Linked DNA regions of Homo sapiens. The protein of the gene in region 4 interacts with the protein of the main gene of each other region in a pairwise test. Each region holds a gene or a part of one and is shown on either strand. Other genes may lie near its edges.

Region 1 (8,096 bases), on a different chromosome or scaffold from region 4:
AGTGTCCCCTGTGAAAAGATTTCAGAAAATTCTTTAGCATTAAACTGGATGGAAACAAACAGAAAAACCATCTCAAAACAAAAAACTAGCCCTCCCGAGGTAGCCTTTTTGTGTTCACCTTTTGCTTGTCGACTTTCAGAGAAAATGATGTGCCACACATTATTTTTCTCTTCCTGTCTTTCGGATTGACTTGCTTGCTTATGCATACTCTGTGTGGCGTTTATTAAAAGCCCTATTTCTGAGGAATAGAAATCAATTTATTTGCATCTGGTATCTTATTTTATTTTTAAAAAATTCCTGAGTTCTTTTACTTACCTTGCAGGGAAAAAAAATGCTCCTTTCATTCCAAGTTTGACTCCAGATTTTGCTGAATGGATTAGAGTAAGTTCCCTTTCCATGCACTGACAAGAATGATGGTGTGTGTCATTTCTTTTTAATCAGTATTTGACTTTCTTGTGTTGTTCCTGTTGGAAACTGGAAGAGAGAGCTGTGTGTGTGTATGTATCTATTGTTCATTGTTCTTTGGGCTGGATGTCGTCACTTAACCTTTTTATTTGGAGGAGAGTGGAAAGGAAGAAGGGAGAGAAAGGTGGAGGTGCTATTTTGTCTTAACAGGATTAATCCTTTTAATAAGATTGAGATATTAAAACAGATGAAGAAGCTCTACTGATCTTCGGGTCGCTGTTGATTTCTTAAAACAAATGTTCTCAGAAGTGACAGTCAAGGTGAGGGACAGGGATAGTACTTTAATATTTAAGACAGGGTTTTATTGATTTCAGTCGAGAGAAAGAATAGAAATTTGCTAATCCTAATCAATTAGATGTATCACCTGGTGCGGTGCCTGACTTGGTTTCTGGCATGTATTAATAGTTAGGGCCCGATATTTTATTTGTTGAATCAGATGAATATGAAATGGAAAGGAAAATTCTGCTTTTTTTCACCAGTTTTTAAACTGAGACAAGATAAAATCTGTTTGGATTAGGTGTTTTGTTCAGGGGAATGCAGAATGTATCCTTTACTCTTAACTTGAAGATGATCAAGATATAATCCTTTTAGCCAGGGTGGCAATTTAAACATAAAAATCTCTGTTTTCCAGTTGATGAGTGAATCTTCCTAGAAGGGCACACAACTTTTCCCCTTTCCATGATGGGGTTTAAAGGCCATGTTTACATCTGCCAAGTCTCTGGGTAAACATTTAGCTGCTGTCCCAACAGGCAGTACCAGCATCTTACTCTTTCTTCTCATAGGTAGAACTAGTAACACAATGTGCAGAGCTTTTTGGATAAGGTAGGAGAAAATAGTCAGGTTAAAATGAAAGAGAAAAACACATTTCTCGAGTTTTCCTGGGAGGTTGGACAAGATCAACTTCTAGATTCCTTTCAGTTCAAAATTTTCTGTCTTGACTCATGTGATGATTGATCTGGAATTAACCTTTTTTCCCTCTGCGCCATCAAAACAACAGTGGTAGAATTGGTTGTACTCTGTGTAATACCTATGATGATTAAATGAGATAGTGGAGGGAAAGCCATTTGTAAACAGTACGTTGCTTTTCAAATATAAAATGTTAACGTATTGTGTGGCTGGGCGAGGTGGCTCACGCCCGTAATCCCAGGACTTTGGGAGGGCAAGACAGGCGGATCACTTGAGGTCAGGAGTTTGAGACCAGCCTGGCTGACATGGAGAAACCCCATCTCCACTTAAAATAGAAAAATTAGCTGGGTGTCGTGGCGCATGCCTGTAATCTCAGCTACTTGGGAGGCTGAGGCAGGAGAATCGCTTGAACCCAGGAGGCAGAGGTTGCAGTGAGATCGCACAACTGCACTCCAGCCTGGGCGACAGAGTGAGACTCCGTCTCAAGACAAAAAAAAAAAAAAAAAGTTAACGTATTGTGATTATGTTGCTGATGTTACTTTTATACCTCCTGTAGAATGACTGTTACTGCTTAGTGGTATTGAAATACCTTTTAAACTAGTCTCAATTTATGGAAATACTGGGAGTTGTAATCAACAAGCAGGAAGTCACAAGACTCTTTTAAGAATCTTTTAAAAGCTACGAAAATAAAACCCATTTGAATAATTTATCTATTCAACAAATATTTATGGAGCCCTTACTTTCTGCATGGCCCTGAAAGTCATGCGGGATGAACCCTCAGCTGTAATATCCTCCTTGACTGCAGGACTGGCAGTCGTGTGGCTCTAGAGGAACCTGTGGCAGGACAGGTTAAGTAAGGCACATAGGGGAGGGGGTAGCTTCTGATGTGCTTCTTTGCTTTCTAGTACATTTCTCTCATTTTGTGTGTTTTATTGTGAACTAAAATATAAACTTAGACTTGAAAATGTGACAAGTAAAAATGGTTGATTAGTCTTGGATGCTAATTGTCAATTAATATTCATTGCATTTGTTTATAGTAGCCTCCACCCTCCCATCCACGGTTTTACTTTTCAAGGTTTCAGTTAACCATGGTCCACCGAGGTCTCAAAATAAGTGAGTAAAGTACAATAAGATATTTTAAGAGAGAGAGAGACCACATTCATATAACTTTTATTACTGTATATTGTTATCATTGTTCACTTTTATTATTAGTTATTATTAATCACTTACTATGCCTAATTTACACATTAAACTTTATCATAGGTGTGTGTGTATAGGAAAAAATATAGTGTGCTCTGTGCTATGTTAGTTAGTTCTATGATAGCTCAGTACTATCTGTGGTTTTAGGTATCCACTGGGACTTGGAATATATCCCCCATGGATGAGGGGAAACTACTGTACCGTGTTGGGGATTTTTTATTTATTTATTTTTTTTTTGTGACAGAGTTTTGCTCTTGTCATGCAGGCTGGAGTGCAATGGGGTGATTCTCCTGTCTCAGCCTCCTAAGTAGCTGGGATTACAGGTGCCCACCACCATGCCCAGCTAATTTTTGTATGTTTAGTAGAGACGGGGTTTCACCATGTTGGCCAGGCTGGTCTCAAACTCCTGACCTCAGGTGATCCACCTGCCTCGACCTCCCAAAGTGCTGGGATTACAGGAGTGAGCCACCGTGCCCTGCCAGTGTTTGGGATTTAATAAGATTAGATTTGATAGGTTAGTTTAATAAGATTTCTTTGTATAGACTGGTGGACTTGACCTATTTAGTTTCTTGGTTATAGGCTGTATCTGCCATCATAAAAATGTATGTCTCAGTGGGGAAGATGTGGTGAGAGAATTGGGTTGATCATCACAAATCTGTCACCATTTGCAGGATAAAAACCAGCTAACTAACCAACAATAGAAACCCATGATGTGCTACAAAGGGTAGAGCCCACAGGCACTATGAAATTGTAAAGGATCCTACTTGAAAAGAGGAGTGAAGGTACATTTGTGATTTCATATTATGTTCAGTTATCTGTGAACTGAACTTCTTTATTGATAAAAAAAAAAGTACATTGTTTCGTTGTTTTTAACCCTGAATATCTATGAACATTGTAAGTTGTATTTATTGTGACTAACTTTAAAGTGATAATGTAGGTCACTTTTTAGTCTAAATGTCGAGTGGATTAGGCAGTCATATTAAATATTCCTTTCTTAATAATTTATAAGATAAAAATTATCTGAGCACAATAAACAGATCTACCATATATGGAGTTCATATAGCAAAAATGTTTTGAGCAAATCCGTACCATTAGGTAGGAACTTTTCTACAAAGGTGTTAAGTCTGGTTCCCAAACTTCTGTGGCTCCAGTCTAACAGTATGAGCCCTAGGAGAGGACACATAGGGACCTTGATTCATGCCCTCCAGGGGCTTGCATTCTGAAAGATGCCAAAGCCACATGCTTGTTGGCATGTGGGCAGTGCTCAGGTCGGGGGTGAGAGGAGATAAGTATATGAGTTATAATCAGGAGGGCAAAATCAGTTAACATTTATTGAACACTTACTCTGTGCCAGTGTTCTAAGTGCTTTGCATGTGTAATAGCATTAAACTGAGGCTCAGGGAGGTTGTGTAATTTCCTCAAGTTCACACAGCTAGCAAGTAGTTGAACTGCGCTTGTGGCCCCAGGGCCCTCCCTCTTCATTGCCTTCCACCTACAAGTAGTTCCCTTGTGCTAGGCAGAGGCTCAGGCAGCTTGGTGTTAAGGCAGTTGGGATGCACTCAAAATTTTTAGTATATTGCTTCTTAAGTAAACAGGTACAGAAAAGTGGTCCTTGACCACTACTATGTTAAAGAAAGCAGTGGCCATGAGCAGGCAGGCTGATGCGCCCTTGTCCCCAAGGACTCTGGCAGGTGATTGTTACAGAGAAGGCTGGCTAGGAAGAGAACTATGTTGTGTGCTGGGAACTCCTGCCTTACAGTCTCCATACCCTGGTCATAGCCACTGAGGTGATCTTCAGCATCTAGTGTTCCACCAGGTGACCACATATAGATTTTCAGGCAACCTCCTTACTCAGCCCCCTAGTGTCACTTTTGGGGGCACATTCCTACCTGCCCCAAGCCCCAGTTTTGTTTTGTTTCGTTTTTCTTCCCTCCCTTCCCCTCCTTTCCCCTCCCCTCCCCTCTCCTTTTTCTTCTTTTTTTCCTCTCCTCCTCTTTCTTCTTTTTTTCCTCTCCTCTTCTTCTTCTTTTTTTTTTTTTTTTGACAGGGTCTCACTCTGTCATCCAGGCTGGAGTGCAGTGGTGCGATCTCCTTACTCAGTCCCCTAGTGTCACTTTCAGGGGCACATTCCTACCTGCCCCAAGTCCCAGTTTGTTTGTTTGTTTCTTGCTTTTCTTGGTTGCTTGCTTGACAGGGTCTCACTCTGTCATCCAAGCTGGAGTGCAGTGGCTTGATCTCAGCTCACTGCAACCTCTGCCTCCCGGGTTCAAGCAATTATCCCACCTAAGCCTCCTGAGTAGCTGGGACTACAGGCGTATGGTTAGTTTTTGTATTTTTTGGTAGAGACGGGGTTTCACCATGTTGCCCAGGCTGGTCTCAATCTCCTGACCTCAAATGATCCACCTACCTCAGCTTCCCAAAGTGCTAGGATCACAGGCGTGAGCCACTGTGCCCAGCCCCATTTCTTTTGAAGAGGTACTGAGACTGTGCTATGTTCTTTTGCCACGCACTGCCTGGGAAGTCAGCTGTTCCCAATAGATACTAGGCCATAAGCAGCCTGTTGCTTATGGACTTCAGCTGGGCAAAATCTCCTGATGGTATTAACTTTATAAAAGGATTTATTTCTAAGGTAGACTAAAGAGAAGGAAAGCTTGTTAGGGAAGGTCTCATAACTATTGTAGGTGACAAGAAGTGGGAATTTCCTCTGATACTTCCCACAAATTAAATTATTGAGGGGCTTTTGTTTTGGATCCTGCAGCCCCCTGTGTTATGTTGTGGCTCTCCCCTGTCATCTCCCCAAATGTCCCAATGTCCCAGGTGTTTGGATGAGTCTAAGAAGCCCAGTTCTGGTTGACCCTCATTTTCCGAGTGTCTGTAAAGTACCAAGTCACATCTACTTTTAGCAGGGCTGGCTTCCCAGCCATGCAACCGCTGGGTTCAGAAGAGCCCCATGCCTGGTTTACTGCTCTTTGGTCCCCATCCTGGAAAAAAAAAAAAAAAAAAAAAAAAAAAAATCTTAATTTTAGAACAGGTGCTTTGCGTTTTCATTTTGCACTGGGCCGCACAATTTATAAGGCCAGTTCAGATTTCTAGCGCTAAATACATGGCTGGCATCTGAGTCTGTAACCTGCATCATTGCTGGTTCCCTGACCGTCTTAATCACCATTTTATCACTGGAATCTAGTCTAGTGTCTGGTAAATACAGGACTGTGTACCATTTACAGTGCTGAGTGTTTTCCTTGGATCACCTAATTTAATCCTCCCAACAGTGCTGTTAACCACAAAGACATAGCAACTTAGAAAAGAGGAAACTTGAGACTCTGAAAGGTTGAGTGTTGCCCAGAATTGCATAACCAGTGGAGGGTCAGGGTCAGGATCAGTGTATGAGCTTGTCTGATTCTAAGCCCATGGCCATGAGCATTCTTCGGTGCTGCTTAACTATTATAATTAATAATTGTTGAGAGGATGAGTGAGAGAGACTGTGTGAACCATAGATAACAATTCTGGAAATTGAGGGGTCACTTGATTGTTTCTGTCACCTGGTTGCCTGTGAGAGGCCCTCTGGGAACTCAGTGACAGTGCAGCTCCCACTGGGAAAGTTGTGTGGGTTTGTGTTTGAGGCGGGAGTCTGCTCACTGATTTTGCTTTCATTGATTACCCACTCTCTCCTTCAGTGTGCATAAAGGTAGGTGTTCTGCCCTTTGGCTCATAGAGCCAAGCACTCCTACATGATTTTGATAGTAGCTCACCATCTGAAAAGTTGCATTTGCAAGCCAATCTCATTTATCAAGTTCCTCTGTACCTAGATTTGCTGGGAACTGTTTTAACCTCTGGACTGCTGCTTTCAGAGTTGAGGACTTATCCCACTAATTATGTCCATGTCTCTCCAAGAGGGATTCCCTTGGGTTCTTTTTTCAACAGGAGAGCTGCTGCTCTGGCCTCTCTCTCTCTTTCTCTTGGGGAAGGGAATGACAATCTGGAGGCACTCCAGGACCACTGATTGAGGCATTGGAGGTCTATACCCGTTCCTAATCAGTATAGACATGGAGTCAGGAGCTAAACAGAAATATAATTCTTTCAGAGTTTTATTTCTAATTATGAATTATTTTAAGCATTCAGAAAAGTACAGAAAATAATATAACAGACTTCTGTGTACCTGCCTTCCTGATTGAACATTTTGCCATTTTGACTTCAAAATTCTGGTGATCTTTAAATGAAACTAAAGACTCCTGTTCCCTGCACGCTTCCTCCTCCACCCTTCTCAGTGGTGACCACTATCCCGAGGTTAGTGAGTAACAGTCTCATGCATGTTTTTGGCTTTTTATCATATATGCATGTGGGTGTAAACCATATATAGTATCATTGTGTGTGCTTTAAGAATTTTACCAAAATTGTAACATAATGCTCTATCTTTCTAAATTTGCTTTTTTCCCTAAAAAAAAATGTTGAGTGAATAAGACATTAGTCTGCCCTCAAGGTACTTATGCTCCTGTACGATGAAAAATAAACAATTACATTTTGGAGTAGCATAGTCTATCTGGAGGGAAATAAAGACGGCTAGAGTAGCACATGAAAGGCAACCTAACCTAGATTTCAGGGCCAAAGAGAACTTCCCAGAGGAGTCTTTTAACATCTGCAACATTAAAGCTGAGTAAAGTTGGCCCAGTGACAGGCAGGGCCAGGGCCAGGCAAAAGGAATAGCTGTGCGGAAATTTGGGGGTGAGTAACCCCATGACTTCAAGGGACTTCAGGGGTTCTGTGTTTTTGGAGCAGGGTTTGGAGCAGTGCTAGAAATGAAGCTGCAGAGCCCAGCTAGGGTCATGGAAACTCTGAAAGTTTGCCTGCAATGACATGGTCAGATCTGTCTGCAGTGCAGAGAAGGATTGGAAAGGGAGGGAAGACTGGAGCAAGACTAGTTAGGAAGATGTCCTGATCCAGAAATGAGATGATGGTGTTCACAACCAGGAAGGGGCAGGAGGGATGCATAAATGTAGATGGATTTAACAACATTTAAGAATTGCCAGAATTTTGTAATTGGATGTGGAAGATGACAACAGAATAGATCTCAGGGATAATTCTTAGGTTTTTGGTTTGAGCATTGTTTTGGTTATCTGAGTAATGAACCACCTTAAAACAATAGTTTAACACAATAACAATGTATTTTACTCGTGAATCGGGGTTTGACTGGGTTCAACTAGGCAGTTATTGTTCAGGATCCCTCATGAAGTTGTAATCAGATGGAGGGTGGGGTCACCTCAAGGCTTCATACACATGCCTGGCATCTGAGCTGGGTACATTGCAACAGCTGGGTGCTGGACAAGGGTGGCCCCCTGGGGCATCTCTCTTCATGTGGTCTTTCTATGTGATGGCCTCAAGATAGCTGGACTTCTCATATTGAGGCCGAAGGCTTACAGAGCAAACGTACCAAGAGAAACTGGCAGAAACTGCCTGGTCTTTTCTACCCAATCCTCAACAGTGATTCAGTGTCACTTTTACTGTGTTCTTTTCATCAAGGCAGTAAAAAA
Region 2 (9,057 bases), on a different chromosome or scaffold from region 4:
GGCGAGAGTGAGACTCTGTCTCAAAAAAAAAAAAAAAAAAGGTGGCATCCAACAGGGCACAGGCTGTGTACAGTTGAGAGCCCATGACACACTGGAAAGCAGAGACTGGAGCCCGAGCCACCCTGAAGCACACGCCGTGCTGCGAGCTTTTCCCAGGCATCGCACATAGCCCTCCACAGGAATAAAGACCCATTTCCCCACAAGCAAAGTGCAGCAGGTTTGTGCCACGGAGGAGGGTGGTGGGTGCGAGGCTCCTTCCATGACCGAAGGAGCCTAGGCTGCCAGCTGGGAAAACATCTGTAGAAAATTCACATCTATTCTCAGGACTATAGGGTTTCTTATTCAATTGTTGTAGTCAAATGACGGCCCCTAAAAGGTGTGTCCAAATTATAACCCCTGGAACAAGCAAGAGTGACCTTGTTTGGAAAATAGGGCATTTGCAGATGTAATGAGGAATCATCCTGGATTTTCAACGACAGATGTCCTTGTAAGAGAACACAGAGGCACAGGAGAGAAGCTGCGTGAAGGTGGAGGTGGAAACAGGCTTTGCAGGCCACAGCCCAGGGGCGCCGAGGAGCACCGCAGCCACTACGCAGGCAAGGCACGGATGCTCCTTCGGAGCCTCCAGAAGGAAACTACCCTGGTGAAAGCCCAGCTTTGGACTCTGGCCTCCGGAACTAAGAGAGCAAATTTGTGTTGTTTTGGCAGCTGCAGGACACTGACCCGTCAATCAACACTCCCACAAGTGGCCATGGCTGAGAACCAAAGTCAAGGAAGGGCACTGGGGAACCATGGGAGGCACGGCCACCATTTCCTGTGCTTCATCTGAGCCCCACCTGGCACACCTGTGGGGCGTTTCACGGCAATACCTGTTCACTGAACAAGTGAACCAGTGAGAATGCTGGCTCTTGTTTTTTTTTTTTTTTTTGAGACCGAGTTTTGCTCGTCACCCACGCTGGAGTGCAATGGCGCGATCTCAGCTCACTGCAACCTCTGCCTTCTAGGTTCAAGCGATTCTCCTGCCTCAGCCTCCCGAGTAGCTGGGATTACAGGCATAAGCCACCACGCCCAGCTAATTTTTTGTATTTTTAGTAGTGACAGGGTTTCACCATGTTGGCCAGTCTGGTCTCGAACTCCTGATCTGGTGATCTGCCTGCCTCAGCCTCCCAAAGTGCTGGGATTACAGGCGTGAGCCACTGCGTCCGGCCACCAGCTTGTTTCTAACTCGAGGCCTGGCTCTTACTACCACACTCACTTCACCTGCCTCATGCCGTCTGTGGCAGATGCAGGGTCAGGGTACCAGCGGCTCAGCAGGTTGGAGGTTGTGCTACAGCAAGAGGCCAGGTTTCAGTGGCACTGTGCAGTCCATACGCCTTGGGGGCAGTCCAGCAGGTCTCCAGGAAGGAGGTGAGCCAACCCCAATAGCACCACTCTAAGATACAGAACACTCGGCCATCTGCAGGCCCTGCTCATCCAGTCTGGGGACAGGTTTTTATTTTTTTATTTCTTATATTTTTTAAGACGGAGTTTCACTCTTGTTGCCCAGGTGCAGTGCAATGGCATGATCTCGACTCACTGCAACCTCCACCTCCCAGGTTCAAGGGATTCTCCTGTCTCAGCCTCCCAAGTAGCTGAGATTACAGGCATGCACCAGCACACCCAGCTAATTTTGTATTTTTAGTAGAGACAGGGTTTCTCCATGTTGGTCAGGCTAGTCTCGAACTCCCGACCTCAGGTGATACACCCGCCTCGGCCTCTCAAAGTGCTGGGATTACAGGTGTGAGCCACCATGCCTAGCCCCTGGGGACACTTTTTTCAGAGGCCAGATGTCAACTTCCATCTCCACATGCCTCAGTTTACACATCATTGCATCTCAGCACAGAGCCCCATCATGTAGGGTTACTTTGGGTTATTCTGCCCCTGTGAGAAGAAACTATTGGCAGCAAAGCCATACTGCCCTCTGCCACCTCTCCCCAGCTCAGGCCAGCTGCGCCTCTGCCGTGCAGTCAATCGTTGGCTCTGTGGGTGGCCTGGAGCCAGGCCAGCACCCCTGCTAAGCCAGTGCCTTCACGGGCGCTGATTTCTGCCGTGGTGATGTTCTGCTTGGCACAAGCAATGATGTCTGGAAGCCTGATTAATGACTTCATCTCCTCCGTGGACATGTAACAGGGTAGGTCGCTGGAGAGAAAGAGGTGCCCCATCAGAGCAGTGGCAGCCACACACCTGCCCCGGACCCCCAGCTGCACCACCTCCCTACCGAGCCATGCTTCCGGCTGTAACCCGAGGGAGCCCCCGCCCCCGCTGTGCTCCCTCTCAGCTCAGGGACGCGTACATTTTATTGAAGAGTATCAGCACCGATGCTTCTGCAAGTTGTTCTGCAGAAAGGAGACCTAAGAGCTGCACACAGGATGCAGAGAGCTGGGTGGGGTCAGAGGCGTCCATCACAAACTGGGGAAAAAGAAAAAGACAGCAGCAATGCCCCGCTGCCAAACTTCCTCCCCTGGGCCTCACAGACCTGGCACTGGGAGAGCAAAACTGCATTTTTTAATTAATTAATTTATTTTTTGAGACGAAGTCTCGCTCCGAGTGCAGTGGCACGATCTCGGCTCACTGAAACTCCGCCTCCAGGGTTCAGGGTTCAAGTGATTCTCCTGCCTCAGCCTCCCAAGTAACTGGGACTACAGACACCCGCCACCACGCCTGGCTAATTTTTTGTACTTTTAGTAGAGACGGGGTTTCACCATGTTAGTCAGGATGGTCTCCATCTCCTGACCTCGTGATTCGCCCACCTCAGCTTCCCAAAGTGCTGGGATTACAGGAGTAAGCCACCGCGCCCGGCCCAAAGTAGCTTTAAACAAAGCTTTGGGAACAAGCAGAAGCAGAGGGAATCGAGTTTTATGAAGACGACCTGGTGTCACTCGTCTCTGTCCTCATGTGGCCATCAGTTCTCCATACTGGTATCCGCGGCACAGGCCTTATCAAGATGAGACCAACCAGAGGTACGTATAAGTCCAACATAAACACAGACGTACCGGGGAGTGACACAGAGGGCCAAGTCTGTTCTCTGCGGAGCAGCAGCCCTGCCCTCAGCAAGCCCTCTGTGAGCTCCTACCGGGGGCCTGGGAGCGCAAGCACCAGAAACCAGACAGGGTGCCCAGCAGGAAGCAACACTAGCTAAGACCTATTTCCATGAGTAGTATAGTCACTAAATAACCCAAACCCCTTTCTACACACAGCAAGGTTGGGGACTGGACGTCACAGAAATGTAGACACACTTCCCTAAAGGAAGCCCATATAGGATTACAACCCACCAGGAGAGAACGGCAGTTTCCATAGTAACTGGACCAGATGGGGCCCATGCACCCCCCAAGCTCCCGGATGGTGATCTTTCTCTGTGCCACGATGTCAGTAAGATTGGTGCCCACCTATAGGAAAAACCACGATGCAAAAAGAACAATACAACCGCTGTCCCGTTGTGAACTCCTGAAGAGCACCGTGCCCACACCTTACACGGTGGCCTGAACCCCGCAGACCCATTCTCCCTAACGCAGGAACGGCGAGCAGGGACCGACGCCCATCAGTAGCTGGACTCGCTGTGGGGGCGACCAGCCACAGGAAGCCGTTGCGAGGGGAGAGGAAGTGCCCGTGGAGGGCGGCAGGCCCCCTCATCCCGCGCCAATTATCCTCAGCTCGGGCCGTCCCCCGCTCCCGAAGGCTGGCCTTAAGTCACGACCTGACCCGCTGCGCCTCGGCGTGCACTTAGAGGAGCCCGGAGCTCTTCGCCAAGCGCAGAACTGACCCCCCGCAACTCCACCCGCGGGGGCGGACACCTACCGTGGGCCGTGTCGGGGGCGGCTCCCCCAGGTCGCCTTTCCCATCCCGGGAGCTCACCTGTGCGAAGCGGTCAAGGACCCGAGCAGCTAAAGGGTGAGTCCCCGCCCCACTCCGGGTGCCCCCCGCGCCCCGGTCCCGTCCCCGCGCGGAAGGATATCCTGCAGCCGTTTCACCAGCAGCGTCTTCCCGACGCCCGTGGCCCCCAGCAGGAGACACATTCCGTGCTTCGCTCCACCCGGCACCCGTAGCTCGGCGCCGCGGCTCAAGGCCCGCCCACCGGCCACTCTCATTGGATAGTTCTCACCTTCGGACTTCTCATTGGTTCTTAGGGCTCATTGTTCCAAGGGCGCGTCCAATTAGCGCGCAGCGTTAGCGGGAGAGCGGAAGACCCCGCCTCCTCGCGGCTCTAGGGCCGGCGCGGTGACGTGCGCGTGCGCGCACTGGAGGGAAAAGGCGGAAGCGGAAGTCGGGGGGCGCGCCAGCTCGTAGCAGGGGAGCGCCCGCGGCGTCGGGTTTGGGCTGGAGGTCGCCATGGGGCGAGGCAGCGGCACCTTCGAGCGTCTCCTAGGTAACGCGTCCCCACCCGACGGCTCGGCCTTGGTCAGCCCGCAGCCTCCGCCCGGCGCTGAGTCAGCGCGGCCCCGAGGGCCCGAGGGGCGCGGACCGGCCGCCCTGCCCGCCTCTCCCCGGCCCGCTGTCCTCCCGGGTTCGGAGCCGCCGATCCTGGACCCTCGGCGCGGCCGTGGGGTCGGCGTCCGTCGGGCGTTGGCAAATGGGGCTCTGCGAGGGTCCGCGCAGGGCGCCAGGGGCGCTCGGCGACCTCGCTCCTCCGCGGGCCCGGGCATTCGGCCGATTTCCTCTTGACCGACGAGCACCCGGCCGAGTGGGCCACAAGGCCTGAGTCATGAAAGTGGGTGACTCAGTCGGATGTTAGGCTCGCACTTGGGCTTCTGACCCAAAACACTGGGCCTCGAAGGGTGGAGCCGGCAGTGTTCTCTCTGGGACCTTCGAGCTCTCTTGGGGGCTGCGGGTCCCAGACCCACCTTTTGTTCCCACACTGGCTTCGGGAAGTGCCTAATGGTTTAGGAAGGCGTTTTCTCACGTTTTTGGAGGTGAAAGCTGATCCTATCTGAGCCTCCTGGAATTGACGCGTTTTGGGAGGGAAACGAATGTTGATGTGCACGTGCCCAGCAGCACGTGGAAAATGCGTCTAATGTTTGGGGGTAGGAGCTTGGGTGGTCGAATGGGCTGCCCAAGCTTGCCTTTTTGTCAAGTAGGGTTTTCAAGGAGACTTCAAGTGAGACACCTTCCTTGCCAAGGGAACCAGCAAGCAGACTGAGTATCTCAGCCACACAGGTAGTTCAGTGCTTCAGGGATGAATCCAGAGGTTAACTACTGAATCAGTATAGAAAGTGGACGTGGCTTGGCTTGTTAGATCGTTTCTGTATCCGGGAAAGGCGATGTGGGCAGAGCTGGAGCTGCCCCCCCAGAGGGGCCAGTTGTTGGAGACAGCAGTGATGTGGTATGATGACAGGTATGCTGGCGAGTCCTCCTTGGAGCCCCGTTCTGCCCTTATTTCCAAAGCACTTGGCTTGGAGCAAGGGGCCTGGAGTCTACACTGCAGGCCTCTCTAGCCCTTGCCCAAGCTAAGGTCCCATTGAAACCGGGAGCATCTGGGCGAACGGGGACTCCAAGGGACGGGTGATAGGGTTCTTTGTTGAGAAGCAGCCGAGCCTGATGTTTAAGAGTGAATCAGCCTCTGTCTCTGGTGAGCTGTGTGACTCACGGCAGTGCCCTCGCCTCTCTGCTGAGTGTCTTTACCTCGCTCGCGGGTTGTGGGAGGGCTTGGACCAGCACCTGGTGTGCTCTTACGCTGTTTGCTGCTTCCCTGGGGAGGATGGCACTTCCCTGCCCATCAGCACGCTCAGGAGGATTCTGTCATGCTTTTTCATTTGGTCCAAATGTCTAAAGGGGAAGGAGAGAGTCCCCCCCAGCTGCTGCCAAGCTGGGGTGCTGCACGGGGCGTCCAGCAGGATAACCCCTCCCTTTCATGGCATTTTCTCTCTCAGACAAGGCGACCAGCCAGCTCCTGTTGGAGACAGATTGGGAGTCCATTTTGCAGATCTGCGACCTGATCCGCCAAGGGGACACACAGTGAGTTAGCGGGGCCTGTGCCCTGATGCGGAGGAGCAGCCGTGCACTAAGCTGGGCTCGCTTGGTGCCCGTTGGGTCTCCACGACGTAGCTGACCGTGTTAGGCTCTTATGTGGAGAACTGCATGGGCTACATGCTAGGATTTTTTGACATCTTGGAGGATTAAGGGGTTTTCTCTGTACAGCTTGCAGATACCTGGTTATGTTTGTATTTGCTTCGGGGTTCTCAAAGACTAAGATGGCAGACAGACTTTTTTTTTTAAGACGGGGCCTTGCTTTGTCACCCAGGCTGAAGTGCAGTGGCGTGATCTCAGCTCACTGCAGCCCCTGCCTCCCAAGCTCAAACGATCGTCCCACCTCAACCTCCTGAGTAGCTGGGACTACAGGCATTCACCATCACGCCCGGCTGATTTTTTGTATTTTGGTAGAGATGGGTTTTTGCCGTAATGCACAGGCTGGTCTCAGACTCCTGGGCTCAAGCAATCCTCCTGCCTTGGCCTCCCAAAGCACTGGGATTACAGGCGTGAGCCACTGCACCTGGCAGCAGATGAGCTTTTCTCATCTTAGTTGCTGAGACTATTTTTTTCCCGTTTTTCTCTGCTTTTATCAATGTTTCCTTTTCAGAGCAAAATATGCTGTGAATTCCATCAAGAAGAAAGTCAACGACAAGAACCCACACGTCGCCTTGTATGCCCTGGAGGTAAGCAGACCCCCGTGCCTCAGTGGCCCCCAGGGTCCCTACCCCCTACTAGTCACGACAGCATGAGAAGAGTTTGTCCTGTGGCCTTGCCCACCTCCCTGGGCATACATCAAGCAGGAGAGTTTCCACTCAGCCTTGAGTGCCTGTGTGAACAGTGCCACCTAGGAGAGGGTCACGCTGAGGGAGAGACAGGAGATAGGGGAGGGAGTGGGCACCACTTCTTCAGCCGGTCCTGCGTGAGTAAACACCAGAAGGCGGATGTCATTGCTGTGCTTGGCAGTGAGACTTGGCGTCACGGAGCGGTGCTGTGCAGGCTGCTGAGTCTCAGATGTGGGTTCCCCACTGGCCTGACGGGCCTGTTGAAGGGCTGCTGTCCCACCGGGTTCCCCACCGGCCACTGACGGGCCTGTCGAAGGGCTCTGCTGTCCCACCGGGTTCCCCTCCGGCCACTGACGGGCCTGTCGAAGGGCTCTGCTGTCCCACCGGGTTCCCCACCGGCCACTGACGGGCCTGTCGAAGGGCTCTGCTGTCCCACAGGGAGGTGGGTCTGTCCGGGAGGAGGAGGGGCCCTGCCCTGACCACTGGCCCAACCCTTCCCTTCCTGGGCATCTGCAGGTCATGGAATCTGTGGTAAAGAACTGTGGCCAGACAGTTCATGATGAGGTGGCCAACAAGCAGACCATGGAGGAGCTGAAGGACCTGCTGAAGGTGGGTGAGACGGGGGCATGCGGGTGGCCACCCAGGCTGGCACCTTTGCTTCTCCGGGTGTTTACTGGGCACTGATGACAGAACAGCACCAGGTGTGGCGGAAAATGTGCAGGTGCAGATCGGTGGTCCCTGCACTGCGCAAGCTCGCACTCATGAGTCGGAGAGACAGGGCCGTGAGCCCCAATCCAGGGAGGTCAGGGTTTAGCAGGAGCCGGCCTGGGGTGCTGTGTCTGGAGGACCAAGGTGACAGCGACCCTGGGGCCTGGGGGAAGCTTCCGGGAGGCAGGGCTTGGGCACCTGCTGTCTTAGGGAAGGTGAGTAGATGCCACTGGGTGGGCAGGGCAGGTGGTGGCTATCGTGTGTGAGAGTGGCTGTGGTCCGGAGGGCAGGCTGGCCACATCCCACAGGCAGGGGCCTGGGAGGGCTCTGAGCGGGGGCTTGTAAGATCGGATGTGTCTGGCGGGGATAAGAGCTGTTTTGGAGAGCGAGGGCTTCATGCTTTCCTGGGCAGAGGAGGAAAAGCCCTCCAGATCCCCAGGAGATTGTGCCGGGGACATCTGCAGGGATTGTGCTGGGGACACCTGCAGGGACTGTGATGTGGACTGTGATGCAGTGGGGATGCTGTTGCAGGTGTCAAGGAGAAAGAGTGTCCCATGTAGTCAGGCTGCTCCCCTTCTGTCCCAACCTGTGGGCCAGACCTGGGTCTCATAGGAGACTCCCTGGACTCACACAGCTGAGAACCTGCCCGGGGATCCCGGTGGACAGCCAGGCCTCTCAAAGGCCCTCACTGGCCACTTTGGCTGGCTTCCTGTCCCGTCCTGTCCTGGCTGAGAGGCGGAAGGTGCCGGAGTCTGGCCCTGCCCGACCCTGGTGCTCCTGAGCTCCTTCAGTCAGGCTGCAGATCCTGAGCCGGTTCGCTCCTCTGGGGTGAGGCAGGGCTGTGAAGGGAAGGCGCCGCTGAGGATGCAGAGGGGTTCTGGAAAGGAGCTTAGGCTGAGGTGCAAGTGCCCCGGAGCCTGCTTGCAGCAGCCTCTGATCGCACGCCGTCCTGCACGTCACACCGGGACGGCGTCCCCGAGAGGGCCGTAGACGCGAGGCCAGGCTGCGCTCTAACCGGGGGAGAGGATGGCTGCAGGGGGTCTGGAGCCCGCTCTGAATTTGGAGGCATTTCTGGAGCGGCTGCCCCCCGCGTCTCCCCGGCTGTGACTGGAAGGAGGGGCGTGGCCAGAGCCCCGCAGTACCCCTGTGTTCTCAGCCCCAACACCACGCTGCCACCGTCAGGCCTGCCGGGTCCTGCCTGTTGGAGGCTGACGGGAACCGGGGATCCTGGGGTGGGCAGGTCCCGTGGGGAAAGGGAGAGACAGATGGTCAGGGGCACAGAGACGCGGCGTTGTTTGGCTCCAGCAAGTAGAGGCAGGCGTGAGGTTTGAACTCAGGGTCTGGGAACAGGTTGGTGCATGGCCCCCACGCCCCACTCGGGGGGCCCTCCCTGGCCTCTGTGTCAGCCCCATCTGCTCAGAGGCTGAGGTCTGCCAGCTGCTTCCTCACACCGAGGCCTCTGGCGCCTGGAGTGTCCTGCGACCCTCACCCCCTTCTCCCTGCCTGCAGAGACAAGTGGAGGTAAACGTCCGTAACAAGATCCTGTACCTGATCCAGGCCTGGG
Region 3 (8,096 bases), on a different chromosome or scaffold from region 4:
TCGTAGTCTACCAGTGCGCTGGGGGCAGCTGACGAGATTCCCAAAGCCGGTGAGCCCCGTTTTGTTTTGGAGTCCTCTAAGGAAGCTACGGTGGGGGAGGGGAAATGAAGGCTTTCTGTTGTGGATATCATGTCTGAAGAAGGGGCATTCAGAACGGGAAAGGTTGACAGGCAGTAGAGGAAATCATTGCTGACCCCTTATTCTCCTCCAACCACTCTCCAAGCTGTAAATTATATATAACCTAGAAAATCACACCTATAATTATTCTGAAAATTGGTGAATAAAAGTATAAGCCTAGTGAATCCCAGATTTTTGTTTGTTTTTTTTTTTTGTTTTTTAAAAGAAAGAATGAAGACATATCAAATATTTTATGGACAGGTGCCTGGAGGTGAAATTCCAAGCGCCGGTACTCACTCTTGAGCTATCCAGGGTGCTGAAAAATCTTCCTTTGCCGTCTTGGACGGTGGTATTTTCTGTACGATATCCTGGGTGTCATCAACCTGGTCAATTTGTTAAACCAGTGCTACCTACTTTTATAAAATTAACTTTAAGATCTTAGTTACTTTACATTTGATCTAAGAAGTAAGCAATGAGAACGTCCGTAATCACAGCGTTGAATGTTTCTGTCTCCATTCGGCATTTTAAAGATAGTCTAAACTGAAAAGATAGCGCATGCTTCTGCTCTAATAGCAAATGAATATTATTGGGGATTTAAAATGGTCAAATTAATAAAGTAATGTTGATTAACATAATGATTAGCATTTTTATACAATATAAGTCTGGGTGGTTTTCCTAGTGAAAGGCCTAGACCATGGTCTTTTAAAACGACACACCAAAAGAGTACTAATTGTGTAACTGTAAACATGTGTTAGTAATGCTCTTCAAAATTTTTATTTTTCACCTTTTAAAAAATATCTGAAGTTGAGTTTAAACCTTTACATAAATATACAATTTCAATACTTCCATCAACACTGATGACAGTGCTTGCTTGTAGGTTCAATTTTGCAGGTTAGAAATTCATAAATTTTGGGGTTTTGTCCTTTAAGAGAAAGATTATCTATTAATTCTGTATTTAAAGGGTAAAATGCTGTGTCTTAACCTAGATATACTGGCAATTAGTTTAAATTAAAATAGAACTTAGAATCACAAATAAAATATAATTGAACAACTGATTTTATGAAAAAAGAAAACGAGGTCTATTAAACTTTATTAGGTCTTCCAAAGGTTAATGACAGTTATTCTTTTAACAGAAAAAGTTGTAAATGAAATAAAATATAAGCTATGTAACAGAAATAGTTATTTTCAAAAAGTACACAAAAGAATGCACAAGAAGAAAGAGACAAAGTACTCTAATTGTTCCAGCATAATGTTCAAGCAAAGATAATAGCTTGAGCCTGCTGATAGACACAATTTAATAGAATGGCAATTTCAATATTTTTAAAAATAATGTTCCATAGTTTAAAAAGTAATCAGATCAACATAACCTTCTTAATTAACTTTTCAAAATGATTAACATTATGTAATGTAATGCAAAAATAATTTATGGAAAATGTATTTACTTCACAATTCACTGTACCATTGCTCCTTGACCAAATTCAAATTAAATAGTAATTGGCTTATGTTCTTATATGATCAATACTTCATAGTTTTCTTTATAGTTAACAGACTGCCACACATTCTTTTCAGTATGTGGGCCACTGCGCTGATTAAAAATTATCTAAACATTTAATTCATTGCAATTGTATATTTTTAAAGATGCTTTTTGATTCTAGACTAAATTATCCAATATACTTATTTTTTATCTTTATTTGGTATATATCACACTTTTAAGTATTTATTAAAGCATCTCTACTCACATGGAGGCCAATTCCATGTCTGATATAGCTCCTCTTTTCTGGCCAGTGTAATAAAACCATTCCTTTTATAGCATGCCATTATTAGAAACCAATTTCAGAATTATTTATAACCTGGAATGGCTTATTAAGCAGCAATGTGAGAATCATGCAAATTATGTGATCAAATGCAATATAATAAGCATAATCATTAGTCTCTAGCATGGATTAATTAACTTTCAATATTTTATTTACATAAAAACCAAATCAGTAAAATAACTTCTGCACAGTCAGGCTTGCCTTTCAATATTTTATATGAACAAAAATAGTGTGCTGTAATTCCATTGACCGTGTCCCCCAGAATGGCCCTGTCACCTGCCACATCTTAATAGGGGGACAAACTGAGAGTATTTTCTAGTTTTCTAATGGAATGAGAAATTGCATTTTCTTCCTCTCCCAGCACTATTAAACTGTAATGAATTCGGCCCAGAGTTCACGGCTGGCTGATCGAAATGAACCTGAGATCTAGGCTTTAATACAGCTCCCCAGATTTCCTCCAAAATCTTCACATTAATCATTTGCTGGATTCCAATGAGATCTTCATAAAGCATTTGCTTCAAGGGGGGAAAAAGTAATATTCTCTCTTTCTCTCCCTCTTTTTTCTATTTCTCAGTCATTTATAGCTGGGGAATTAAACGGGCTATATATTTTAAAATACATTTACAGTATGTCTATATTACTGTAACAGCAGATATCATGAAAGTGGATTTTTAGATTCCAACCTCCATTAGATTCTCACTGTTGTATTAAGCATTTTCCAAGAAGAGCTGCATTTCAAACTGAGTACAAAGTTGGCCCGTGGCTGGGGTTAATATATTTCCTGGAGTTGTCATCTGTGCATTCTAAAAATCTCCCTTAGGTTTTGCCTGCATTTTAATCCGTCATGCTCTAGTTTTCAAGTGGAAACATTCACATTTAAAAAACATATGCATCGTAGCTTGGAACGGAGGTGCTCAGACCCCACGCAGATTTTTTTTCCCAATCCCAGTAAGCCATGAAACATAAAAAAATTTGTAGCCATCATTTGACTACTAACCCTCAAACATAATTGAGCACGATTTTCCGATTATTTCTATAATATTTAGTTCTTTAACAGCTGTTCTTTTCCGCCTGTGCCTGAGCAGATCCTAGATTCAGAAACCATTCTGGTAGTCACATTTTCTATTGAAATTCTACTGGGCAATCCTCCCCCTCTTTCTTTTTTCTGCTCCTTCCCTCACACTCCCTCTCCTCAAACAAACATTTCGGGATTCACTGGCACTTGCAGGTTGTTAGGAACCGGTCTTGATTTTATAAGACACCTTTCAAAACATAATCCCGGTGCGGCGTGTAAGGTGTGGGAACCGTTTAGTCACAGACACCGTCCCGTCTACCTCCCCCGAGTCCAGCCTTGGGTGGGTGCTGCACAGCGACTTTCGGCCTTAGGTCTTCTCGCTGTGCCTTCCTTTCCTCCTGAGAGATGCTCTCCGCCTAAGACCGCTAACAGCTCAATTGGGTCTCATTGATCCCACTCACCATCTAGAGCCCTGTTGCCTCATTAATCCGTTGTGCCACCAGCTCACGGGCTGCAACTGGGAAGAGACGAGACCTGTTTATCCATCGCCGACACTGGGATACGCAGCAATCTGCAAAATGGGGTAGAAACCACAGGAAGAAAGTGGTAGGCGACGGCGCAGGCACGGTAGAAAGGCGAGGGCCGGCCCCAAGCTGGGGGAGTATTCTAGACTGCAACACCGTTCACACTGGTAAGCGTAGAGTGCGTCTACGCTTGCCTGGGCATGAACACACCGCTGAACATTGCTGGCTCACCGAGACCGAGGGCAGGTATGTCCATACCCCTGATACTTTAGCTTGCAGAGTAAACACTAAATAGGTTAGATTAACGGATGCACAACGTTTTTTTCCACGGATATCGTGGTCAAATTGCGTTGGCCAAATTCTAAGAGGAAACTCAGTACCTGGGCTTGTCCTACATCATTTATATTTAGGCACAGTAAACGCCAGATGACCAGATTTTAAACTGCAAGTCTTCCAGGCAGGCTTGCTGGCAAATTATTATTATTATTATTGTCATTTAAAAAGATCACATTCAAATAGGGGGAGATGGGAGTTATCTTGGATTGGCAGCTTATGTGATATCTTTCAGGCAGAACTCTTCTTCTGTGATAGAGGGTTTGACATGCCTAGGCAAATTTGCCTGACAGGGTCTGTAACTCCCGGGCCACTGTTAAAAAAAAAAAAAATAGGAAGGCTGTTTTCATTTGGAGTGTATTTTATCAAACTCATTTCCCTGAAAAAGGACGTTTGGGTTTGTCTGAGCAAAATTAAATTTGATTCATATATCTCGTAGTGAAATGTGACCTCCTTTAATTCATATTGGTCCGAAAATTTGCTTTTAGTTTATAAATGAAATGGGGGCGACTTGAGGGAACTGGAGGCCTTGTTACTTGGGACCCTTGGTAAGTTCCTGAAAGGAATAGACTTTGGCTTGGCGCGGTGGCTCACGTCTGTAATCCTAGCACTTTGGGAGGCCGAGGCGGGTGGATCACGAGGTCAGGAGTTCAAGACCAGCCTGGCCAACATGGTGAAACCCCGTCTCCACTAAAAGTACAAAAATTATCTGGGCATGGTGGCGCGTTTCTGTAATCCTAGCTACTCGGGAGGCTGAGGCAGGAGAATTGCTTCAGCCGGGACCCGGGAAGCGGAGGTTGCAGTGAGCCGAGATCGTGCCACTGCACTCCAACCTGGGCTACAGAGCAAGACTCCGTCTCAAAAAAAAAAAAAAAAAAAAAAAAAGAATAGGGTTGAAGGCTCTTGGGGCAGCAGGTTCCAGCCACTCGTACAGCCCAGACAAAGGTGTCCATAGAGTGGTTTGGGAATGAGGCACGGAGAGTTGTGGCAGTAGCACGAAGCAATATGGGAGGAATCGGAAGTCATGGTGGTGACCCAAACAACACTGTAGCTCAGTGGCGTTCACTTTCCCACGCAGATCACTGTATTAACCTCTCCGCTCTGTCAACCGTAGCGTTAGGGGTTTTCCTTTGTCTTTCGATTTTGAAACTATGTCATCCACAGCCTGTCATCAATTTCCAAATTTCCAGCGTTTCTGAAAATTCTATAGCACATCAGTGTTATAAGGCATGCTATTAAGCTACATGGGTACACGTTTATCTTCATTTGTACACCTGTGGGTCGAACTTTGACACATGCCTGACTGCAGACCTGTGAATCTGTGCAGTGCACAGAATGTGCAGGGGCGTGGTGAAGACTGCACACATTTGGTGTGTTTGCACAGTGCGTAAACTCTTCGGGGCACGAGCTCTTAGGAGCGCAGGACTCCGCGCTTGGTGGGTGCAGGGGGCGCCAGTTGCCAGGAGTTGGTGGGGAGCCACAGTCTCCGGCTGGGTATGGGGGCTTGTCGGGCCTACGGCACTTGTTCCTCCCAGGGCAGAGCGGCTGTATCCGAGGCGGGTTTCTGGGGCTCAAGCCCCAACTCCCCAGCCGCCGGGCCGGCTAATAGCTCCCTGTCTGTCTCCCGCCCCGCCCGCTCCAGGTCTGGTTCCAGAACCGACGCGCCAAGTGGAAGAAGCGCAAAAAGACGACCAACGTGTTCCGTGCGCCCGGCACACTGCTGCCCACGCCAGGCCTGCCTCAGTTCCCGTCGGCTGCCGCCGCCGCTGCCGCCGCCATGGGCGACAGCCTGTGCTCTTTCCACGCCAACGACACCCGCTGGGCGGCGGCCGCCATGCCTGGCGTGTCACAGCTGCCTCTGCCGCCGGCGCTGGGCAGGCAGCAGGCCATGGCGCAGTCGCTGTCCCAGTGCAGCCTGGCGGCCGGTCCGCCGCCCAACTCCATGGGCCTGTCCAACAGCCTGGCGGGTTCCAACGGCGCGGGGCTGCAGTCGCACCTCTACCAGCCCGCCTTCCCCGGCATGGTGCCCGCCTCCCTCCCCGGCCCCAGCAACGTCTCCGGTTCGCCCCAGCTCTGCAGCTCCCCGGACAGCAGCGACGTGTGGCGGGGCACCAGCATCGCCTCCCTCCGCCGCAAGGCGCTAGAGCACACAGTCTCTATGAGCTTCACTTAATGCAGCCGCGCCCCGGCCCGCTCCGCCCCCAGCACCGCCCCGGGGGCCGCCCCGAGGCCCTTCCGGCGCGCACCCGGACCCCGGCGCCCTGCCCCGTCCCGCCCCGGCCTTCGCCCCGTCTCGTTTCGTCCTCGCCTCTCTCCTCCACTCGCTCGGGCTCACCCCAAGCCCCAGCCCGCGAGGCCTCCCCTCCGCCTGATTTCGATCGCCCGCGGTCCCCCGTCTCCCGGCCGCCCCTCTTCCCTTCCCACCCAGCTGCGCCCTCGGCTCGGTCTCCAGCGCCTCAGCCCACCCTTCCCGCCACCCTGGCCTCCCTGCTTGCGCTGGCCGTGCTCGCGCCCTCCTCCTGGCCTTCTGACGGGCGGCGTTCCCACCCACACCTTCGACGCGACGCCTACGACCCCCCTCGCCCGCCGCCTCCCCTCCGGTCCCCTCTTTCCCCACACTTCGCGACCCTCCTCCCGCGCCCGGCAAAAAGTATCCTTCCCGCCATTTTACGTACCAGGGAGTCGACTCAGGATCTGAAATCAGACACCAATGGACTGGTTTGTGGGCAGAAACACACACACTCGCACTCTCGCTCACGCTCAGACGCTACACACGCGCGCGCACAGACACGGTGCACCTAGGTCACACACGGACGTGTTCAAGGGACAGCACAATGTTAGGGATTTTTGTCTTAAAGGAGGACAAGCATTGCTACCAACCGCCTCATCTGAGGGCCCAACTGATATGATTTGATTTATCCTTGTACTCTCCAAGCTCCTGTCTTTCTTTCCTCTCCCACCACGCTACCCTTGCCCAGTCCACCCAGTCACATCCGTGCAGCCCTCTCTTGGCTTGCAAGATAACGCTTTTATTTTTATTTTATCTTATTTTCATTTTCTTAAGCACAACTGTGTGAGAGTGTAGAAGGGAAGGCTTCTCAGGAGGAACGTGACAGTGGATTGGGTGGCTGGAGTAGACTAAAGCAGTCATGTGACGAGGAAGAGGTGATCTGACCCATTTTGATAAGTCTTTATAAGGAAGAATAAAATAAACGTGTAAGCAAAATTTTCTTTTGTAAAAGCAAAAGCCACATCTCTTTTCTGGATCCTTCAGGACTGGGGTTTGTTTGCTTCCTTTTCTGTTTCTGTCTTCTCGCTGCTCTGTGCCCTTGGTTGTTTTGTGGTGGTCCTGTCGTCCCTCGTGCCCCTCGGCCACCTGCTGGCAGCCGATGGGGGCACTCGGACATCTACAACCCTGCAACTTTGTACAGAGAAACACAATCAGCTCTTTCTGCATGTGCTGGTCAAATCCAAACCCAGAGAACAGAAGCGCTTTCTAAGAATGAACAAATATGTGAAATAGGATGTTTTGTGTAGATAAAGCATTCTTGTTACATACTGGTCAATTTGTGATATGTTTTAACTTAATGTCTGTGTTTATTTATGGAATTCGGTTTTCTTAATAAATGTTTGAGCTAATATAAAGCATATTATTTGACTTTTCCGGACAAGTTTATATCAAGTTAAATGTAAATGGATAAAATAAAATCATTTTCAGTATGTGATATAGAGAATGATGGGTTTTGGTGTGACCTTGAACGGCGGGAGGGGTCTCGTGGGGGGAGGGGAGGGGCCGGTCTTGGGAATGGTTATATTCGCGCCAGTTGGAACGCGTGGGCCCTTCGCCCTGCAGTGGGCTTGGGTTCGGTTTCTGGGCTGCAAGGTGAGGTCTCCGCGACGGGGCGGCATGCTGGGGCGCCGCGAGCGCCTCACGCAAGCTCTGAGCCTCCCGAGGTTTCCGGGCCAACCCAGGTTTCCCAGGTGGGACTCCGAGCGTCGCTGTCGGCACGAAACGCAGGGCGCGAGAGTTCCTCAGATGAACGGTGTCCCTGGGGCAGTGGCGCGGAGGGCGCCCCTCGCGGGCTGCGTGCGCGTGATGGGGAGGCCGTGGGTGGGAGGGGACCACAATTCGCACCCTCGGCCTTCAGAGCCTGGAGTTCTGCTCTCCGGCGCCGCCCCAGCCGTGTCTGGCCCCAGGTACGCGGTGGAAGCTAGGCCGCGGCTCTTGCCTCCTCCGGGGCCTAGGCCTCTTTGGGGCCTTCCCTAAGGCCACGGCGCCCCTTCATGTCCCCA
Region 4 (5,446 bases):
ATGGAAGGAGACTGGCATTTAATATATATACCGAATCTATGTTAATTTGCTCCCATTCCTGACTACCGTACTTCCGGTATCTCTGTATTTTGTTTAGATCACCTTTAACAGAATCTGGCAAAGTCCTATTAATAATTCTGTTTTCGAGGATACTACTTGGTTACAGTTTTTTGGAGAATGGCTTACCATATTAATAGCTTTGGTTCCTGTTCCAAGAACAATTTGTTTGTGCTTTTTCCAAAAACACTGTCAATAACTTCCTACCTCCCATTGTCTGTGGGAAAGATGTTAGTCTCTCAAATGTTATAGTAATAGTACCTTCTAAAGAGTTAGCTGGGCGTAATGGCACACACCTGTAATCCCAGCTACTCAAGAAGCTGAGATAGGAGAATTGCTTGAACCCAGGAGGTGGAGGTTACAATGAGCCAAGATCATGTCACTGCATTCCAGCCTGGGTAGCAGACCAAGACTCTATTTCAAAAAAAAAAGAGTTAGTCCCACAGATAATTGTGTAATATTGGATCATCTCTTTCAACAGTTCCTTTATGAAAGCCATATTGAATTTGTTAAAAATTGAGGTTATTGACTTTAAGGTTTTTTGTTTTTGTTTTGGGTTTTGTTTATTTTATTTTTTTAAAAAACAGGGTCTTGCCATGTTGCCCAGGCTGGACTCCAACTCCTGGGCTCAAGTGATCTTCCTAGCTCAGCCTCCTAAGTAGGTGAGACTACAGGCATGTGCCACCATGCCTGTCTCTACTTTTTAAGTTTTTTTTTTTTTTTTTGAGACAGAGTCTCGCCCTGTCACCCAGGCTGGAGTGCAGTGGCGTGATCTCAGCTCACTGCCAGCTCCGCCTCCCAGGTTCAAGCAACTCTCCTGTCTCAGCCTCCCAAGTAGCTGGGATTACAGGCATACACCACCACACCGGTTAATTTTTTTTTTGTATTTTTAGTAGAGACAGGGTTTCACCATATTGGTCAAGCTGGTCTCGAACTCCTAACCTCGGGTGATCCACCCGCCTCAACCTCCCAAAGTGCTGGGATTACAGGCATGAGCCACCGTGCCCAGCCCCTTTTTAAAGTTTTTAATAGTTTTTTTAACAGCCAGGTGTGGTGACACTTTCCTATAATCCTAGCTACTTGGGAAGCTGAGGCGGGAGGATTGCTTGAGTCCAAGAGTTTGAGACTAGCTTGGGCAACATAGATTTTGTAAGAGGCTGGGCGCAGTGGCTCACACCTGTAATCCCAGCACTTTGGGAAGCCAAGTCGGGTGGATCACGAGGTCAGGAAATCGAGACCATCTTGGCTAACACAGTGAAACCCCATCTCTACTAAAAATACAAAAAATCAGCTGGGCATGGCGGCACACGCTTGTAGTCCCAGCTACTCGGGAGGCTGAGGCAGGAGATCACTTGAATCTGGGTGCCGGAGGTTGCAGTGAGCCGAGATCACGCCTCTGCACTCCACCCTGGGTGACAGGGCGAGACTCCACCTCAAAAAAAAAAAAAAATTGTAATAGAATTTTTTAAAGTTTTAATAGTTTTAAAAGTAGATTTTTTTTTTTTTTTTTTGATATGGAGTCTCGCTCTGTTGCCCAGGCTGGAGTGCAGTGGCAAGATCTCGGCTCACTGCAAGCTCCACCTCCCAGGTTCCCATCTTTCTCCTGCCTCAGCCTTCCGAGTAGCTGGGACTACAGGCACCCGCCACCACGCCCAGCTAATTTTTCGTATTTTTAGTAGAGACGGGGTTTCACCATGTTAGCCAGGATGGTCTCGATCTCCTGACCTCGTGATCCGCCCGCCTCGGCCTCCCAAAGTGCTGGGATTACAGACGTGAGCCACCGTGCCTGGCCTAAAAGTAGATTTTTTAATTACAGTAGTAGCTATTTTTATATCTTATCAGCCAGTCAGATTCTGAGTACCTTATTTACCTGTTTTTTGGGGTTTTTTTTTTTGTTTTTTTTTTTGAGACGGAGTCTCGCTCTGTCGCCCAGGCTGGAGTGCAGTAGCATGATCCCAGCTCACTGCAACCTCCGCCTCCCAGGTTCACGCCATTCTCCTGCCTCAGCCTCCTGAGTAGCTGAGACTACAGGCACCCGCCACCACGCCCGGCTATTTTTTTTTTTTTATATTTTTAGTACAGACGGGGTTTCACCATGTTAGCCAGGATGGTCTCGATCTCCTGACCTCATGATCTGCCCGCCTCAGCCTCCCAAAGTGCTGGGATTACAGGCATGAGCCACCATGCCCGGCCTATTTACCTGTTTTATAATTAATTACCAGCAGAAATGTATCTGCTGGTTATTAATTACCCTGGGAAAGTACAGAGTAGTTTAGGAAAGCAGGGGTTTTTTTTTTTTAGATTTTATTAAACTTCATTTGACTTCTTCTTCACGAGGCGTGATTTTTTGTTGCTGTTTTTTTTTGAGACGGTCTCGCTCTGTCTCAAACCTATCATAAGATGAAAATATCATAAGTCAAAAATGCATTTAATATCCCCATAAATCCACTATAAAGTTGAAAGATCATAAGTTGATTCATTATAAGTAGGGAACCAACTATACTTAACTTTTTATTTTTTATTTTTTTTTATTTTTTTTGAGACAGAGTCTCGCTCTGTCGCGGAGGCTGGAGTGCAGTGGCGTGATCTCGGCTCACTGCAAGCTCCGCCTCCCGGGTTCCCACCATTCTCCTGCCTCAGCCTCCCGAGTAGCTGGGACTATAGGCGCCCGCCACCACGCCTGGCTAATTTTTTTGTATTTTTAGTAGAGACAGGGTTTCACCCTGTTTAGCCAGGATGGTCTCAATCTCCTGACCTTGTGATCCGCCCACCTCGGACTCCCAAAGTGCTGGGATTACAGGCATGAGCCACCGTGCCCGGCTACTTAACTTTTTAGAACCCCCAAAAACAGTTGCCCTAAACTCAGCTCAAGTGTGATTTGGTAAGGCCATGGTCTCTCCCATTTTACAAATGGGAGCACCGAGATACCCACCAAGAAAAATGAAATTCTTCCCTCACACCTCACAATACAGGTGCATCATTTAGTGTTCTGTAGTTGTAAGTCATAGAAACAGGCTCTGGCTAATACAAGAGCTGAAAGACTAAGGGGGAGAGCTGGGCGGCTTGGAAGATGCAGATGGGCAGGAATCCCTGGATGGCTTCCTCAAGGAGAAGCTACAGGAAGGATCTTGCTCAAGAGAAAGAGTCTGATTGGCCTAAGTTACATCCTCTGTTCACCCTTTTGCCAGGTGAGTGAGGGGCCACTCACTTGGCACATGGACTGGAGGAAGGGTGGTTCCCAAATGAAGAGCAAGGTGCTGTTACCCAAAGGCAGGAAAATAGATGTGGGCCAGGCCAAAGCCCACCTTTCGACTATTGTGAGTACTGTAGGGAAGGATACTGCCCCTGAGGTCTGCAGGCTTCTATATGTAAGCCAGCCAGAGGTGTCCATGAATGCAGTATCAGAAAGTCAGTCGGATCTATAAGCACCCTGTGTGCAGAGCACTCTACTAAGGGCTTTAGAGTGTACCAAGGAGTGGAGACATGCTCTCACTTCTGATTTGTGAGCTTGACAGGGATGAATGTAACCACATAAGTTAAATGTCATGTTAGACTTGTAGCCCCATATAGACAAGGATTTTAATGTCCCCAAGCTAAGACTCTGGGTGGGTGCATGTCCATTGGCCCAGGAATCCAGATGGAAACCACTTTGTGGAAATGAAATCTTGTGCCTAACATGCTCACTCTCTTTTGCCCTCTGTTTCTCTTCTTACTTACAGTGGGAACGTTATCATAGAAACAAAGTTTTTTGACGACGATCTTCTTGTAAGCACATCCAGAGTGAGACTTTTCTATGTTTGAAAGAAGAATGTGTGTACATTTCAAGAATTTGGGTTTTTTGGAGGGAGGAGGAAACTGTTTACTTTTTTCCTCCACACGTTTGATTTTTGACACATACACCCCTAATTCCCTCAACAGCAGAACCTACCTGCAGCCACCAGGGGACCAGCTCTGTGTAGGTAACCAGATGGCTCTTTTTCCCAAGCCACCATCTTCCAGCTGACCAGACTAAACTCCCAACCCCAGACCAGGGCAGGGGACAGGTCTCAAGTCCTTCCCAGCATACACACAGGGAACAAACACATACCACAAACCGGTAACTGTACCTGTCACCCTCCTTGTCTCCTCCTTGGGCCCTACAGGCTACACATCTACCTTTGGCCCCTGGTTTTGGAAAAATTCCGTGTTCCTGACCCATGTTTAGTTTTTTCCTACCATTTCTATTTCATACATTCTCATACATTTAACTTGTAAAATAGACTGTGATATTATTACATAATGTAATTAAAAATATGAATTAAAATATTCCTACAGTCTTTAGCATGGCACTGCTTTTATCTCTCCTTTTTCTGGAAAGTGAACCTGGCTGCATAATGGAAAGAAACCAAATATAAGATCACAACTGTATTTCACTCCAGGAATGGAACTGATAGATCTTGTTCCCTAGTGCCACAGTTACTGCTTTCCAAAATTGTGCAACATACTTGAACCAAACCCATGACCTTAACATTTGTCTTTTAGACACAATCTTTAATGGTTCTTTTCCACAACATACATGCACCCTTTGTTTGTTTATTATTGTTAATTTTTTCTATTTGTTTACAGTATTCATTTGTTCAAGAAGTTTCAAGAAAGGGCAATTCTAAGTTAGTAGAGTAGGGACTCTCATATTCCTAAATGAGACTAGAAGCTACAAAATGAAAAGATCTGCATGAACCTAACTGGAGAATGATGGGAAGGCGTCTGGGCTGGGAGGAGGCTGGGAGGCCTTTAAGACTGTCGTCATTGGAAGCCAGCGTGGGAGAGAAGGGATTACAACTGGCAGTGCTTTCAGGTCCGACATAAGAGAGAACACCAAAAAGTGTTCTTACCTCTGAGCTACTAGTAGCCTTCAGTGTCTTTTTTTGTTGTTTTGTTTTGAGACAGAGTCTCACTCTTGTTGCCCAGGTTGGAGTCCAATGGCGGGATCTCAGCTCACTGCAACCTCTGCCTCCTGGGTTCAAGCAATTATCCTGCCTCAGCCTCCCGAGTAGCCCGTCACCACACCTGGCTAATTTTTTTGTAATTTTAGTAGAGACAGAGTTTCACCATGTTGGCCAGGCTGGTCTCGAACTCCTGACCTCAGGTGATCCGCCTGGCTCGGCCTCCCAAAGTGCTGGGATTACAGGCATGAGCCACCGCTCCCAGCATGCCTTCACTGTCTTTTATAAAATACCAACAATTACATGTTTTCAAGTTACCAAAGCAGTAAGGTCTGAGGCCAGAGGACAGAACACATCAAAGGTATGGCTCTCTTTGGTGTAGCTCTTGCTCTCAGATTCCTCTTTTCCTTTTCTCTCTATTACCTGAGTCTGTTTGCATCTGCGGGTGGGGAGGAGAAACCGTATAT

What was found.
Region 1: the proteins of PDE6D (region 4) and ARL15 interact in binary tests that used the Homo sapiens proteins (3 or more experiments, as listed by UniProt).
Region 2: the proteins of PDE6D (region 4) and ARL16 interact in binary tests that used the Homo sapiens proteins (3 or more experiments, as listed by UniProt).
Region 3: the proteins of PDE6D (region 4) and OTP interact in binary tests that used the Homo sapiens proteins (3 or more experiments, as listed by UniProt).

What each region holds. Positions count from the first base shown.
Region 1 is NC_000005.10:54,300,173-54,308,268, reverse strand, and holds part of ARL15 (ADP-ribosylation factor-like protein 15), read left to right. Parts: intron 1-322; coding exon of another isoform or gene 323-381; intron 382-8,096.
Region 2 is NC_000017.11:81,679,702-81,688,758, forward strand, and holds ARL16 (ADP-ribosylation factor-like protein 16), read right to left. Parts: upstream 4,097-9,057; 5' UTR 4,053-4,096; coding exon 3,992-4,052; exon of another isoform or gene 3,894-3,991; coding exon 3,835-3,893; intron 3,426-3,834; coding exon 3,312-3,425; intron 2,975-3,311; exon of another isoform or gene 2,542-2,974; coding exon of another isoform or gene 2,449-2,541; coding exon 2,333-2,448; intron 2,179-2,332; coding exon 2,007-2,178; 3' UTR 1,486-2,006; downstream 1-1,485. Other genes in the region: HGS (hepatocyte growth factor-regulated tyrosine kinase substrate), read left to right, coding at 4,366-4,402, 5,904-5,988, 6,611-6,686, 7,302-7,394, 9,003-9,057. UniProt on the Homo sapiens protein: May suppress the RNA sensing activity of RIGI in a GTP-dependent.
Region 3 is NC_000005.10:77,628,144-77,636,239, reverse strand, and holds the end of OTP (homeobox protein orthopedia), read left to right. Parts: intron 1-1,779; exon of another isoform or gene 1,780-3,517; intron 3,518-5,445; coding exon 5,446-5,976; 3' UTR 5,977-7,528; downstream 7,529-8,096. UniProt on the Homo sapiens protein: Probably involved in the differentiation of hypothalamic neuroendocrine cells.
Region 4 is NC_000002.12:231,731,364-231,736,809, reverse strand, and holds the end of PDE6D (retinal rod rhodopsin-sensitive cGMP 3',5'-cyclic phosphodiesterase subunit delta), read left to right. Parts: intron 1-3,776; coding exon 3,777-3,858; 3' UTR 3,859-4,377; downstream 4,378-5,446. UniProt on the Homo sapiens protein: Promotes the release of prenylated target proteins from cellular membranes. Modulates the activity of prenylated or palmitoylated Ras family members by regulating their subcellular location.